2 separate regions of the Homo sapiens genome follow, and region 1 is linked to region 2. The links come from fine-mapping of genetic effects on gene expression. Tissue or cell type: esophagus muscle. Region 2 holds a variant in brackets; the other region holds the start of a gene. All regions are shown on one strand. Distances are from middle to middle.

Region 1 (8,106 bases), 37 kb after region 2:
TCCTGGCCTCAAGTGATCCACCTGCCTCAGCCTCCCAAAGTGCTGGGATTACAGGTGTGAGCCACCACGCCCGGCTGAGATGGGTATTATTATTATCTTTGCTTACGGATAAGGACATTGAGGCACAGGGGCATTAAATCAATTGCCAAAGGTCACACAACCATTAGTGGTAGAACTGAGATTTGACCTGGGTAGTTTGGCTCCACAGCCTGGGCAGGCAACCACTGCCTTTTGCAGCATGTCTATCAGCATGCTATGTGAGCTTGGGAAAATCATCTTATTTCTCTGTACTTAATTTAATTTATAATAAAATGGGGATAATAATATGTACCCTAACTCCCTCCCTGAGTGATTGTGAGATATCAGGACAAAACAAAGTTATAAAAGTGCAGTAAAATTCAGTATGGCTATTCAAACATTCAAACGAGGAAATACATTAGATGGCTTATTTCTTTAATTACAAGGAGTTTAAAGCCACAATTATCCAATTGCCCTTTATCTGTGCTTCATTATAAATATCCTGTTCCTCTTTTTAAAGGAATAGATATACTTTTAATTTTTTTTTTTTTTGAGACATGTCTCTCTCTGTCACCCAGCCTGGAGTGCAGTGCCGTGATCATAGTTCACTGCAGCCTCAAAATTCTGGGCTCAAGCAATCCTGCACCGCAGCCTACTGAGTAGCTGGGGACTGCATGTGAGCACCACTATACCTGGCTAATTTTTTTTTTTTTTTTGAGACGGAGTCTCGCTCTGTCACCAGGCTGGAGTGCAGTGGCGCAATCTCGCCTCATTGCAACCTCTGCCTCCCGGGTTCAAGCAATTCTCACTGCAGCCTCCACCCCCTGGGTTCAAGCAATTCTCCTGCCTCAGCCTCCCAAGTAGCTGGGATTACAAGCACACACCACCACGCCCAGCTAATTTTTGTATTTTTAGTAGAGACGGGATTTCACCATGTTGGCCAGGATGGTCTCGATCTCCTGACCTCATGATCCACCTGCCTCAGCCTCCCAAAGTGCTAGGACTACAGGCGTGAGTCACTGCACCTGGCTCGATTTATGTATGTTTTGTAGAAATGGGGTGTCACTCTGTTGCCCAAGCTGACAAAGAATTCTTATTATTATTATACTTTAAGTTTTAGCGTACATGTACATAACGTGCAGGTTTGTTACATATGTATACATGTGCCATGTTGGTGTGCTGCACCCATTAACTCGTCACTTAGCATTAGGTATATCTCCTAATGCTATCCCTCCCCGTTCCCCCACCCCACAACAGTCCCCGACAAAGAAATTTTAACACAGTTGAAACTGTACAACTATGGAAGGTGCCACCTTGGGAATGTCTGGAAAAACTAAAAAAGTTAAAATGGCAAAAACTCCAAAAATTATTGGGTGTCCTGTGGCATGCTAGGCCTTATCTAAAGCACCTTTCTGGATTACCTGATTTTTTAGTGATTTTTGCCTTATAAAATCTTGCAGCTATTTTCCAACTTGGTAAGTTGTAGAAAATTCATAGGAATGCCAATGATTCTTGTCCATAGAGATGCCTGGTAGAAGTGCAATTGCTCTCCCAGCACCCCGAGGCCAGTTCTGCATTTATTATTTATTTTTATTAAAAATATAATTTTTAAGACAGAGTTTTGCTCTGTGGTCCAGGCTGGAGTGCAGTGGTGTGATCTCAGTTCACTGCAACCTCTGCTTCCCAGGTTCCAGAGATTCTTCTGCCGCAGCCTCCCGAGTAGCTGGGATTTGTAGGCGTGCACTATCACGCCCGGCTAATTTTTTGTATTTTTAGTAGAGATGAGGTTTCAAGATGTTGGCCAGGCTGGTCTTGAACTCCTAACTTCAAGTGATCTGCCCGCCTCAGCCTCCCACAGTGCTGGGATTACAGGCATGAGCCACTGCACCCGGCCAGTTGTGCATTTATTAACATGTTCGTTTCAGCATTCCTGATTGCCTATATATGTGTGTACACTTTGTGTTTTCCTCTGGACAGGGCTAGCTTTACTGGTCTCCTCATTCATTAATGAATTAAAGTCTTTGATGTGTGTGCATTTTATATTTGTAGAGGAGTCATGATTTTACTCTTTTCAAAACAATTATCCTGTAACAGGAACCCTCTGAGCAGAGGCAGACAGGCCACCCTTGATTCCTGCTGTGGAAAGAGAATTTTTTACTCCAGACCCCAATGGTCCTTTTCAGATTCCTAACGTGAAGGGTTGTTCATATCTCGGCCTCTCGCGGAAGACTCTATTTTCTTGAAGCGCGGGGAACTACGTATTCCCACTAACAAAAATCTGTTAAGGGGCAGGGCGCAGTGGCGCACGCCTGTAATCCCAGCCCTTCGAGAGGCCGAGGCGGGCGGATGGCTTGAATACAGGAGTTCCAGACCAGCCTGGGCAACATGGCGAAACCCTATCTCTACGAAAAAAACACAAAAATTAGCCGGGCGTAGTGGCGCACGCCTGTAATCCCAGCTACTTGGGAGGCTGAGATGGGAGGATGGGTTGGGCCCAGGGGATCGAGGCTGCAGAGAGCGGTGATCGCGCCACTGCACTCAACTTGCGCAACAGAATGAGACTCTGTCTAAAAAACAAACAAACAAACAAACAAACAAACAAACAACCCCCAAACTCCCCAAAAATGTGTTAGGGGAAGGAGGTGGGACAGTGTGTATTTCTGATCTACTCGCCTTTCCTAGTATGACCACCAGGGGGCGCGGAAGCCCTCCTGGTACTAAGGCGGGGACAACCTGCCCAGCGAGCACAGCGGGCAGAAGGAAGTGTGCCGGACGCGAGAGAGAACTACGGCCGAGACCCGCGGGGCCGGCTCAAAGCCCGACCTCTGCCATACGCACCGTATCTTTATGGGAGCCGATGAGGTCAGCAGGGAGCACGCGTTCAGATGGCAGAAGAGGGCAAAGTACTGCTAGAATTACAAAGATATTTACAGCTTTTTAACCTGAAAGCACAGAGCAGATCCTATTCTTCAGAATTAAATCTTCGGCTCGCCAGTCCCGTTTATGGATCTCCACTCTGATGAATGTGCCATTTGTTCCCAAGAAGACAAATAGGGTAGGGAGAAGAGGGAGAGGCGGGGAGAAGACTCGAGATAAAGGGACGATCTGCTTTTCGGAAGCAGAAGCCGCCTGGGAACCACCTGCACACCAAGCAGGCTGCGAGGACGGGGAGCGCTCCAGTGCAAAGTTCTGTATTTTAAAGCCCCTCCTCGCTCACAGGCTTCACAGCGAACTACGAAGTGGGTACCATCTCTGATTTACAGACACGGGAACGGGGTCCTCTTGAGAAACGATGCTTTCCCAAACGTCTGCAAATTGTGAGTGCCAAGTGTCTCCACTGGCACTAACAACATCGAGCTGCTTACGTTTCTCGGAGCGGTCCCGATTTCCAACAAGCAAAAGATCCAAATTCTCTGACCACCCTGACCGTCCTGTATCTCCAGATCTCCAGGTCTTTCCTCTGGACACCTCCTCCATCCCCCCACTTTCACTGCCAGCAGCCCTGAGGCTGCGCGGGATCCCGCTACTCGGAATGCCTTCCTCCTGGCGGGATATTTTTAGAACACTCGACTGCCACCCAATGTAGCCCACATCACATTGTCTTATTTGTTTTCGGGAGCTTGTCCCCGCCTAGCAAGGAGTCGGCTAAGAACTGGATCCTAGCGAGGAGCCCGGCACAGACAGCGAATGACCGCAGCCAGACAGTCGCTCTTGCTCTTCCTCGGCCCTGCGGCAGGATCCGCCGGTGCAGGGGCCTCTCCCCGGACTCCACGCGTGTCTGGAGGGCTCTCGGGTTAGGGAAGGGGGCTTTGGAGACGCCCCGGGCGGCCGGGCGGTGGCGGGACGCGGGCCCTTTAAGAAGGAGCGAGGGGCGCGGCCAGGTAGGGGCGGGTCCAGGGCGGATCAGCGCTGCGCCGGCGCCGGCCCGGGAGCCGGATTTGGAGCGCGAGGCGCCGGTGGGGGCGGAGGGGGCTGCGCGGCGGAGGCTCCCGTGGCCTCGGACGCTCCTCCTAGCTAGCGGCCGCCGCCCGCCGCCGCCTGCGCCTCCAGCTCCTTCGCCCCGGCGGGCCCGGCCGCCGCTTCCGGCAGCTCACCTGGGAAGCGCTCACCTGGGACGCGCTCACCTGGGACGCGCTACCTGCCTCCGGGCGCCTGGGCTTCAGGATGAAGGACCGTCTGGAGCAGCTGAAGGCCGTGAGTTTCGCCGCAGGCGGGGTGCTGCCAGGAGGGGTGCTGCATGGGAGAGGGGCTTCCCTTTGCTCCCCAAGTCGAGGCTGGAGGGGGGCCCGAGCCGGAGGCTTGCCCTCCCCAAGCCCCCACCGCTTCCCGCGCCGGTTCCGCACCCTCCCCTCCCCTCCCCTGCGGGGTCATGTGCCCGGTGATTCATCGCTAGGCAATGATTTTCCTGAACGCCTCTAACTCTCCCACCCCGCAAGCTGGACAGTGTCTGTCCAGAGCTGGTTCCCGAAGCGGGTGCTTGGGCCCGGGAGGTCAGGGGTCCCTTCACCACCTGCCCACTGCTGCCTGGCACTATGCCCAGGACCAGCCTCCTTCTCCCTTTCCTGTTTCTCTCCTGAGGTGCTACAGGCCTGGCTGCCCCTTCCCCCAGGGAGCAGCTCAGAGCTCTCTGGTGACCTCTGGAGCTGTGAGCCGGTCACATGCTGGGATGGGTCAGCTCCTCTCCAACCGGTGGTCTGTAATTGTTATCCCCGGGTGTCATTGTCCCCCCCTCCCCCGCCGTATCTTTTGGAACAGCTGTGGTTAGGTCAAAGGATCTGAAGGTAGACTACCTCCAGCCTTGGCTGCGCAAAAGCTGTAAAGCCTTAGGTTACTTACTGTGAGTCTCTGTTTCCTTATCTATCAAATGGGAATGATCATACCCTAGGAATTTGTTGGGAGGATCAGCTGATACAATGGAACTTGATACAGAAAAGGGTTAACGCATAGGGTTTTAAGCCAGATATTCATTGACTCATTCAGTACATAATTATTGAGTGTATTCTATGGGGAGGTCCAGTGCTAAGCCTTGGAGATTCAGTGGCACAGGTTCTACCTTAATAGAATTAAAATCTAGCCCTTGACACTCAAGAGTTTAGTCCATCTACTTTGGAGCTTGTTACAAGTGTAGCAGCTTAGGCCTGAGTCTAGCCCCGCAGAATCAGAATCTAATTATTCATCCATTTCCCCAGGTGATTCATGGGCACATTACAGTTTGGGAAGCACTGGACTGGATTAGAACTGGGGTTGTCTCCTGGCTCCACTGCTTACTGGTGATCCCTTAAAATCCCAGCCTAAGTTTTGTCATTTGTAAAATGGGTAGTTGTAAGGTCGAAATGCAACAGAAGATGCTTAAGAACACTTTTAGGGTGCATGGCACGGGGGACTTAATAAATGGTGAAATATGCTAATAACTGTGAGTGCTCTTGGGAAAATGCAGATGTCAGGGACTGCTGGGATGATGTTACAAGAGTTTATCCTTTTTCTCCCTTGCTTGGATGAGACCTTCATTCCTGTTTCACCTGTTCTGTGTAGCAGGGCTGCGGAGGAGGCAGGTAGCTGGGGAAGTGAGAGAAGCAAAGGGACAGTTGCCTATTGTGGGAGTGGCCTCTCTGCCTCAGGCTTGTGCTTAGTCATCTCAGCCTCACAGCGTCCAGGTTACTGATGGGGCAGAATTTATTGCCCCTGTTTTTATAGATGGGGAAACTGCTGCTCACGGGGTAGGAGGGATGCTCCAGGACACAGAGCCGGCCAGGGCACCACCAGGAGAGGAACCCAGGCTCTTGACACTCTCCACAGTGCTCCTTCCCTTGAAGCACGCTGGTTGGGGAGGCAGAAGGAAAAGAAGAGCACGATTTTGAAGATCTCTCTGTGTCGGCACACCCAGCAACCATAAAAAAGTACAAAACTGAACAGCAGGCTCTTCCATTTATTAGGAAATCCACTTCCAGAGGAAGATACTCCATGGCCCCTTTCAGTAGCTCATTGTCAACAATGAGCAAAGAGTCTTAACTGAGCTTTGAGTTCCAAGAATAAATTTAATTTGCCTGGGGACGCTGAGCAAGTCTCTTTGCCTCTCCTCGGTGCCTCATGGTTACCCTCTGTACAATGGAATTAATGATAGGTTTCCTCCCCTTCCCTCTTGGGGATGTGGTGAAAGTGAGACTGGAGATGGTGGTGGTATTATGGGAGGATTGTTCTGAAATCACAGGGTGGCTTCTGTAGCGTCTTGGAGCAGATGCATGGCAGCGTGGGACAAAGGGACACAGGTGGCAGGTTCCAAGACTGATCACTGTGCTTCTTTGCGTCACTTCTCTGCTTCTCAATTCCTCCTTTATACAACAAAGAATTGAGTTGATCTCAGAAGCCCCCTCTGGCGTTATTATAGGTTTTTCTTTGAAGACTGTTAAGGTTTATGTGGATTTTGGTGTCAGTTCACCTCCTCTTATCCCCTCTCCCCAGCCAGACTCCCAGGGATCACCCTCACTGAAACAAGATATGCGTCTTCTCCCTCTGATTTCCGTTATCAATTAGAAGCGTTTGTTAACCTGCATGAAACAAATTGCACATTGAGCAGCCTATGCAATCTCTTTCTGTGGTGTTCTTTCTAAATCCTGGGGAGGGGAGGTGGTAACTGCCTCCCGATAACTGGAGGGCTTTCCGTGCCTGTGATTGACTTTGTTCTGGGTAGATACAAAGAGAACATGTGGGGTTGATGGGTAGAAATGAGGAATCTGTAAGAAAGCGTTTTTAGTAGACAGAGCTGCCCAAGGATGGAGTAGATGGTGCACCCTCCAGCATGGGAAGGAAGCAAGAAGCTTGTTGGGATTTTGAATGTTGTAGGAATTTGAGCATCTCTTGGAGGGGAGGTGAACTAGGAGATATAAGGCCTTCACCAACCTTAAGAATGTGTGGTTTTATAAAATGCTTAATTGTGAGCCTGTCCTGAGGCTTTGAAGTCTACAGGGACTGAGGCCTCAAGAGTTGCCCCTGTAAAGTGGCTCATCACCCTTTTCCCATAGGATCATTGTGAGGATAAAATGAGATAATCCGTGACAATCACCCACCACTGTTATTGTTAGTTCCTCTGTCTTGGCCTGCTGGCAACAGCGTCCACACAGAAGGGCATCCCTTCCTGAGGCCATGGTCACAAGATCTGACTCACCTGGTCTCATCTCATCTCTTCTCTTGCACTGCTCTTCCTGGTGGGCTCCCTCGACAGCCTGCTTTTTCAGTGACACAGGACAGGCTTGCCAAGAATGTGCAGTGCCTCTACCCAGCCTATCCCAGGACATGGTTTTCTCTGACTTCTCAGCAGCTGAACTTTGAATCTGCTGAGTCCAGACAGTTCCATGCTTTTGCATGGCCCTGTTTTCATTCAGCAAACATTTGCTGAGTACTGAGTACCCACTGTGTGCCAGTCCTTGTACTAGATGCTGGAGTGTAATGGTGATAAACGCATGTTCCTGGCCCTTAGAAAGTTCATGGTCAGGTAGGAAGAAACAGAAGAAATAGACATGAGGATATCATCCTTGTGATAGAAGCAACCACAGGAAGACCCTGTTGGCCAGTCTTTGGAAGATGGGAGATGGGCATGAGGCTTTGGGTGGGTTCCCAAGAAGTAGTAATGCTTGAGCTCAGCTGATTCTTCCAGCCCAATCTGACCTTTTCAGATATGTAAAGGTGGTTGGAGATACATAAGTTACTTTACGTACCAGATAAGTAAAGAGACCTTGTATCTAATCCTCTCAACCCTGCAAAGCAGAGTGGGTTTTTCTATTATTCTCATTCTGCAAGTGAGTGAATTGAGGCTTAACAAGAAAGGCAAGGATCCTAGATTGTCTTAATCACTCTCGCATTGGTGTATAAACCATCAAGCATATAAACAACTCAAGGGAGCATCAGCAGGGTCGCATGTGCATGGTACCTGCTGACCACCATGATCAGAGCTTTGTGACCTCTGTGTGCCTAGCATCCTGCTGGGCGTCAAGTTTAGGCAGGATTGACAAAGTCCTAGTATCAAAGGGTAAATGATCACATAGGGAAGACAAAGACATGTAGTATATGACAAGAGGGCCAACAGTAATCAAA
Region 2 (8,106 bases):
TCTGTCACACAGGCTGGAGTGCAGTGGTGCAATCTTGGATCACTGCAACCTCTGCCTCCTGGATTCAAGTGATTCTCATGCCTCAGCCTCCTGAGTAGCTGGGATTACAGGTGCCCGCCACCATGCCTGGCTAATTTTTGAATTTTTAGTAAAGATGGGGTTTCACTGTGTTGACCAGGCTGGTTTCGAACTCCTGACCTCAGGTGATCCGCCAGCCTCTGCTTCCCAAAGTGCTGGGATTACAGGTGTAAGCCATCACGCCTGGCCTGGTGATCTTTATTTTAATTCCAGTGCCTAGCACAGTGCCTACTGTATAGGGTTGCCAAGAAGCATTTGCTGAACAAATTAATGAATAAAGCAAATTTAAAGTTCAAAGTTACAAAATGGGTAAAATAGGGTATTGATTAATTATATAAGACAATAAATAAAAAATTTTAGGATTGTATAGGCAGATGTATGCCATAATTTAAAGAGAATTGTGTTGCTGGCATATTATGAAATTGAATCATAAACTCTGTAATATATCTCAAAACCTAGAGACTTTGATTTACATTTTTCCTTTATCCTATATGTCCCTACACACTGATAGTTCATCTTTCAAAGAGTCTCTCCTATCTGTTGCTTTGGTCCTTTCCCATTTCCTTAATCAGCTTTCTCCATTGTTATCTTCCATGAGGATTCCTGTGATAGCTATCTATTCTCCCATCTCCCTTCTCCTCCCTCTGTAATCCATCCTGCTCTCTATTATCATGTTGCTTATATGCTTAGAAATTTTCAGTGCCTTCCTATTGCTTAAATGTTGACCTTCACAGTCTTCTGCCAATTATTCCAGTCTCTCTTGGAGCTGACTTTTTTAGACTAATCCTGCTATGGCGCTTAAATATCCCTGTTACAGACCACATGGTCTACTCATTGGCCTCTTATTCATATTCTCCCTGCTGCTTCATATACTTCCATTCTCCTTCCAACTAGAAATACTTTCTCCTCTCTTTTGCTTAATCCAAATCATACCCAATTTTCAAATTCTAGGATATGTTGTTCTTTTATGAAATCTCCCTAGGTCACTCTCTTTCCTTTCTCTGACGTTTTACGTTGCTCAGTATTATGAGTTTAGTGCTACCAAACTGTATTTTACTGTATCTATATGTCCTGACCCAATTACATTTTATGTTCCCCAAGGATGGGGGCTGGACCTCTGTCTTATGAAAAATTATCATTTCTTTCATAATAAGCGCAAGGCATGGTGAAAAGTGCTCTATTATGCATTTGCCCACTTAATCTATAAAACCATGTTAGTAGGGGTGTACTATCATCATCCCTTTTTAACAGATGAAGACACATAGGCTTAAAGAAATTTTAACATTTTCTGAATTCACATAGCTAGAAAATGGAAAAGTCACGGTTTGAACAGTTTGTTTGATTATAGAGCTTGTTTGCTTAACCTTAGTTTATACCCTACTTTCTCCCTCCATACTTTTTATCTCCTAAGTAGCTTTGCTATTAATTGATTACAATTCAGAACTCTAGATGGTCTATTGGAAAAAGAGTACCTAAGATCTAGGACTGAAAATGTTGGATTATAGTATTTCCACACTTGAGAGACATAATTACAATAATAATTACAATACATGATTACTATGGCTATCTAGTAAATGCTGCTCCGGGCAATGCAGCAAAAAGAACTTCCCTTTTTTCTCTTCTAAGGAGCAGAGGAAAAATATTTGGCTAAAAACTGTGATGTTTTGGGTGGAGATAGAGGGAGGGTGGTTTGATTCATTTCTTCACAAGAGAGGGAATGGAGACAAAGAGAGGGTAGAATCCTCTGTGACCCATGATCTGAAGTCCTGTGTGCTGTCCTAAGAGTTTTCATAGGTGCCTGCCTGCAGTTTTAAGCGACTGTCTTCTGGGGGCTAAGAGTCTAGTCCCCAGACCAGGACAGTACCTATGTAGGGCTGAACCAAACCTATACAGTCAAAACAAAATGAATTACTCAATTCATTAGGACACTAGAAATAAAAAGTTCCAGAGGTGCCTTCTGTTCTTGTTCTTCTTAATCTCCTTAGACTCAGGAAGTCCATCCTATCTACTGGGCATAAATCAACCTAATCTCCTCAAAGCACTTGTGTCTCAATGCAGCGCAGGGTCTGCGTTGGCATTATTGTATCATGAGGTTTAGAAAAGAGAAGGGAAAATCGAATCTGGAGAAATACTGTGAAATCCAGAATGCTGTATAAGAAATTTAAGCACTAAAATATCCATTATAATATTGGTCTAGCCAATCTCTTAATTTCATTTCTTTTCTTTTCTTTTTTCTTTTTTTTTTTCTTTTTCATTCCCTTTCCTTTCCTTTCTTTCTTTCCTTCTTTTTTTTTTTTTGGAGTCTCACTCTGTCACCCAGGCTGGATTGCAGAGGCACAATCTCTGCTCACTGCAACCTCTGCCTCCTAGGCTCAAGCGGTTCTCCTGCCTCAGCCTCCCAAGTAGCTGGGATTACAGGTGTTCGCCACCACACCCAGCTAATTTGTGTATTTTTAGTAGAGATGGGGTTTCACCATGTTGACCAGGCTGGTCTTGAACTCCTGACCTCAAGTGATCCACCCGCCTCGGCCTCCCAAAGTGCTGGGATTACAGGCGTGAGCCACTGCGCTCAGCCCTTAATTTCTTTATTAAAAAGTTTTCTACTCATCATATTATGGCCTTCCCTTCTACCCTACCCCAGGTAGTTTTTAAGAACCTCCTCTCCATTAAAAAAAAAAAAAAAAAGCATCTTGTTTTCTTGGTCTATGGTAAAATTTATTGGAAAAACAAGAGATGCTTGTTATTGTTGCTGTTGCCATTGTGAGAAGGTATAGATGTAAGTTAGGCTCTATTTAGAAGTGATATCAACCTTAGAATAATATGAAGTGCATTTTTTTTTTATTGCAAAGAAGACAACTAGACACAACTTTCAAAAGATGGCCCAGCATGCTCACTATTCATCCATGTGATGCTAAAATATTGAATTAAATGTTGGGCATCATGGAAACAAATAGCTGCATGCTTTGCTGACTTCATTCTTTACATAAATCTGGACAGGTGGTAGCAGCTATTTGGATCCATGCTTGCTTTTTAAACTAGACTGTGGACATTCTAGTATCTAGAGGGTACAAAGCTGTGTTTTGAGAGAAAGCGAAGTTCCAGGATCAATATGGCAGTTTTTTTAAAAGGTCTATTTTAACTTGAAAAATTTC[G/A]GAGAATGATTTCATATCAAAACAAACATGGAGATAATATAGGGTAGTGGGAAGATTTGCATGAATTTAGGGGAGTAAAAACATAAGATTTTGAAGAAATTTCTTTCCTGTGGCTGATCACAAAGTTCTTAAAAAAGTAAATTGTCTCTCATGCTAATTAGAGTACTTAGGTTAAAAAGCCTTAGATGTTAATTTAGACCATAGATTGGCTATTACTCAATTGAAAATACAATTTCCCAAAGTCCCCAAGTCTCAAATCTTGACTTGGAATAGCTCCTCTCTTATTACGGCAAAGAAAACAACTGAAGTACTAGCCAACTTCTTCTAAACAGGTAAGGCCCAGAGAAAAACTCTCAGAAGACAGCTAGTCTTCGGAAAAATAGCTTATCGTCTTACCATCATGCAGCTAAGAACATGGCTCCACAAGTTCTTTGTCCTTCATGTAATCCCTATACAAGTTGACTAGTGGCCCTGGAAGGTCACAGATGCTCACAGAGTCAGAGCTCTGCCAGGTCACCTGGGTCCATCTTTTCCAAAGAGACTGCTTGACTTGTCCGAGATTGCACAAGGGGGTCAATTTTTAATTCATCATTTAAATGTACAAAGTACTCTAGGGGACCCAAAGATAAATGAAATGCCATCTACTTTATGGAGTCAGGGGTCAAGACTGTCAGCCAGATTTTTGCTTATTCTGGCTTGGTTTGCAACACCTTTGTGCCTCTGCCACTCCTTGTCAGTTTCTCTCAATTTAGATGTGCAGATGATATTTAATCACAGGGAGAAAATGTAGGTTGCTGGGAACTTCAGTTTGAGTGGCTGTTTAATTAAGTCTATATAATTGCCTCTGGTCATACAACCAAATTTTAGGGGAATGAATATATTTTAAAAAGCATATAATTTGGGGGAAATGATGTCTCCGGGAAAGTAGGCTATGTTGAAATTAAATGATGTGTATTCAAATTTCAGCTTTGTCACTTATTAGTTTTGTGATCTTGCTAGGTCACTTGCTCTCTCTAAGATCCCATTTGCTCAGAATAGCACCTCACTACTTTACAGTGTTGTTGTGAGGTGCACGTCCATGAAACGATGTCCGTGAAAGAACCTAGTAGAATGCCTGCATGTATTACCTGCTCAATGAAGTATACAGATTATTTGATTCCTTTATTCATTATCTATCCTAAGATTGAAAAAAAATGTTGAGTGGGTAGAATACCTGGCAGGTCTATCTAATATTTTCTGGAAGAGATTTCATATTACATCTCGCTCAACTCCTAGTCTCCTATGTTACCTTATTCTTCAGAATCTCTCTTTTAGTAGGGTGAAGAATGACAACCCTTTAATCTACTTATAAACTAGTTATTGTTAAAAGGTACTTTATATAAATAAGGAAACACAAAAGAAAGAAAGAAAGACAAAGAAAGAAAGAAAGAAAGAAAAGATAGTTTATAAAAATGTATTGACTTTAGGTATATCTTTATGGCTGAATTGACCTACATGATATAGCTATTAGCACAAATTTGGACTCAACTGAGAGGAAAATAAAATCTTAACTTGGAGATTTTGATTGTGGGATGAGCAGAGAAGGAAGAACAAAGTTATAACCATAATTCACAGGGCAAAAGCCCAGCTCGGAACATAGGTATTTGTGGCTTCTAAAGATACTTATATGGCTGTAGCAGAGTCAGGGAAGATATATTGGTACCTATTCAAATAAAATGTTCCAACATCAGATGTACTGAAACAAAAGACATATTTTGTCCTTGGAAGACACTCTTTTTTTTTTTTTTTTTTTTTTTGAGACAAGTTCTCTCTCTGTCACTCAAGCTGGAATGCAGTGGTGCAAATATGGCTCACTGCAGCCTCTACCTCCTAGGCTTAAGCAGTTCTCCTGCCTCAGCCTCCCAAGTACGTGGGACCACAGGTGCATGCCACCATGCTTGGCTAATTTTTAAAATTTTTCTAGAGATAGGGGCCTTGCCATGTGGTCCAGGCTGGTCTCAAACTCCTGGACTCAGGCAATCCTCCTGTCTCGGCCTCCCAAAGTACTTGGATTACAGGCGCGAGCCACTGTGCCCAGCCAGAAGACATCCTTGAATAACATTTTCTATATGTCTGATGATATTCTCATGAGTACTTTCTGGAAGAAATTCATATAAGCATTTTTTTGGCAGCAGCATCTCGAAAGAAAGAGAGCCAAAATAGTTTAATATGTTGGATCAAATGAAATTTGTTTTTGAAGGTCAGCAATGGTCGCATATGATTTGGGGGAAAAGAAAGAGAGAAAACACCAATGGCAGCATATAGGCAATTTTACATGGTCCAATGTGATACTTTTGTAAGGGAACTGGGAGTATATTGTATGAAACATCCAGACATTCAACAAAGGCTATTGTACTCCTACTGCAATAATAATGGCTAACATTTATTGGGTGCTGTGCACTGCGAAAGCAGGCTCAGTACTCCAGGATCTGTGCACTGTGCTAATTATTTTACAGGCATCAGTTCCTTTAAAGTGGACCTTCAGATATATTGGTACCTATTCAAATAAAATGTTCCAACATCAGATGTACTCAAACAAAAGACATATTTTGTCCTTAGAAGACACTCTTTTTTTTTTGAGACAAGTTCTCAAAAAAAGATACCTATTCCTGTGAAATAGGTATCTTTATTGTTTACATTTTTTTTCAGATGCAGAAATTGAGGCTTAAGGGTTTAATTAACTTGCCCAGCTAGTAAATGGCAGAGTAGGACTTAATTCCTAGGTCGATCTGAAAGCAGGTCTGTTTCTATCATTAAAACAAACTGTACATCACTGAGCAATGCAGTATGTGCAAGGCTGAATGATAGGTGCCTTAGAGGGACAAAATTATTTAATTCTAATTGTCCATTTTCAACAAACTCTATTGCTGTAAAGTGATGTGCCACAGGCATTCCTCAGATCATTGCAGAGGCAGTGCTCAGCACTTTAATTTATAGTCTCTTTCTTTCCTTTTTGCTCCTGATTTTCTTCCTCTTTCACTACCTACTCATTTAATCAACAATATTGTTTTAAAGAAATCCCTTTTACAAACATTATTAAGGCCCTGCTCTATATAAGGCATAGCTCTGTTTTCTGGGAAAAGAGAAAGAAGTGTATAAAATGAGTGAAGATGTTAATGCTCAAAATTGAATGAAAGAGATAGTAATAAAAATAACGCAAGTCAGGCCAGGTATGATGGCTCATACCTGTAATCTCAGCATTTTGGGAGGCTGAGATTACATGAGGCCAGGAGTTTGAGACTTGCCTGGGCAACATAGTGAGACCTCATCTCTACATAAAATTAAAAAAATCAGCCAGGTGTGATGGCATGTGCCTGTGGTCCCAACTACTCTGGAGGTTGAGGCAGGAGGATCTCTTGAACCCAGAAGATCTGCAGTGAGCTGTGTTTGTGTCACTGAACTGCAGCCTGGATGACAGAGCAAGACCTTGTCTCCAAAAAACAAAACATAGGGCTGGGCGCAGTGACTCACACCTGTAATCCCAGCACTTTGGGAGGCTGAGGCAGGCAGATCACCTGAGGTCAGGAGTTGGAGACCAGTCTGGCCAACATGGTAAAACCCCGTCTCTACTAAAAATACAAAAAAATTAGCCAGGAATGGTGGTGCACACCTGTAATCCTAGCTACGTGGGAGGCTGAGGCAGAATTCTTGAACCTAGGAGTTGGAGGTTGCAGTGAGCTGAGACTGTGCCACTGCACTTCAGCCTGAGTGACAGAGTGAGACTCCTTCTCAAAAAAGAAAAGAAAAGAAAAGAAAAGATATACGTATACATGTGTGTACGTGTGTGTGTATATATAATACAAATATAATACAAGTCAAATTCAGGGAACTGCTGTCATAAAATGACAACATGCTAGGGGAACACAGACATCTCTCTTTTTGCAATAATGCCATTTGAAGAATGGCATGTAATTACAATTACTTTTTAATGCATAAGGGGCCTCCTATGTGAAGGAAACTACTAGTAATTCCTTTTATAACAGAAGTATTTTCTACATTTTCAACATCTTTAAATTTGAAATTGAAATGATGGATATTTTTTAAAAAGTGGAAAACTCCTTGACCGTACATACATCTCTGCATTTCAGGAATGGTTAGTGTTGAGCTCATTTAATCTGGTCTAGAGTATGATCCCTTGATCATTGTGAACAGATCTTTCTCTTTGCCTTTCATCAGTTTGAGGAGCATGGATTTCACAGTATGTATTCTTGAATTTCCCATAAGTCATCTGTATAAAATACCAGTTCTCAGTAGGAACTAGACTTTGACTCTTTCTGTGTAAAGCTCCACGCTTAGCTTTTGTTCCTAGCTTAGTAATTGACAAGCAATTTTTCTTTTTTTTTTTTGTTTTGAGGTGGAGTCTCGCTCTCTCACCCAGGCTGGAGTGCAATGGCACGATCTTGGCTCACTGCAACCTCCGCCTCCCAGGTTCAAGTGATTCTCCTGCCCCAGCCTCCTGAGTAGCTGGGACTATAGGCGTGCACCACCACACCTGGCTAGTTTTTGTATTTTTAGTAGAGACGGGGTTTCACCATGTTGGCCAGGCTAGTCTTGAACTCCTGACCTCATGATCCACCCGCCTTGACCTTCCAAAGTGCTGGGATTACAGGCGTGAGCCACCATGCCTGGCCGACAAGCGATTTTTCTAACATTCTAAAATCTGGAGTCTGGGGGAGGGGATTCTGAGCATTTGCTGAGCTCAAGTGGACTACAACCCATTGCAGATTTACTGGGATCCTTTGCTAAACACTGAGGACCCCAAGGGCCTGCCTCAAGGTCTTACCTGTCCTCAGAGGATCCCTGGGCTGGCATGCTGACCACTGCTAGATCACATATC

The links. PIP is the estimated chance that this variant, and not a neighbour inherited with it, causes the effect.
Region 1: it holds the start of STX3, and the variant in region 2 is fine-mapped to the expression of STX3 in esophagus muscle (GTEx, PIP above 0.99).

Annotation. Positions count from the first base shown.
Region 1 is chr11:59,751,424-59,759,529 of GRCh38, forward strand. STX3 (syntaxin 3) reads left to right here and starts at 3,953. Exons shown (of 11, transcript NM_004177.5): 1 at 3,953-4,212. The coding sequence starts at 4,183. RefSeq lists enhancers at 2,383-2,883, 2,573-2,867, 2,633-2,927, 2,864-3,023 and a silencer at 3,894-4,153.
Region 2 is chr11:59,714,135-59,722,240 of GRCh38, forward strand. No RefSeq gene overlaps it. Among named protein-coding and RNA genes, the nearest start is that of OR10V1, 4.3 kb to the left of the region's middle. The variant G/A (reference allele first, on the strand shown) is at 3,231.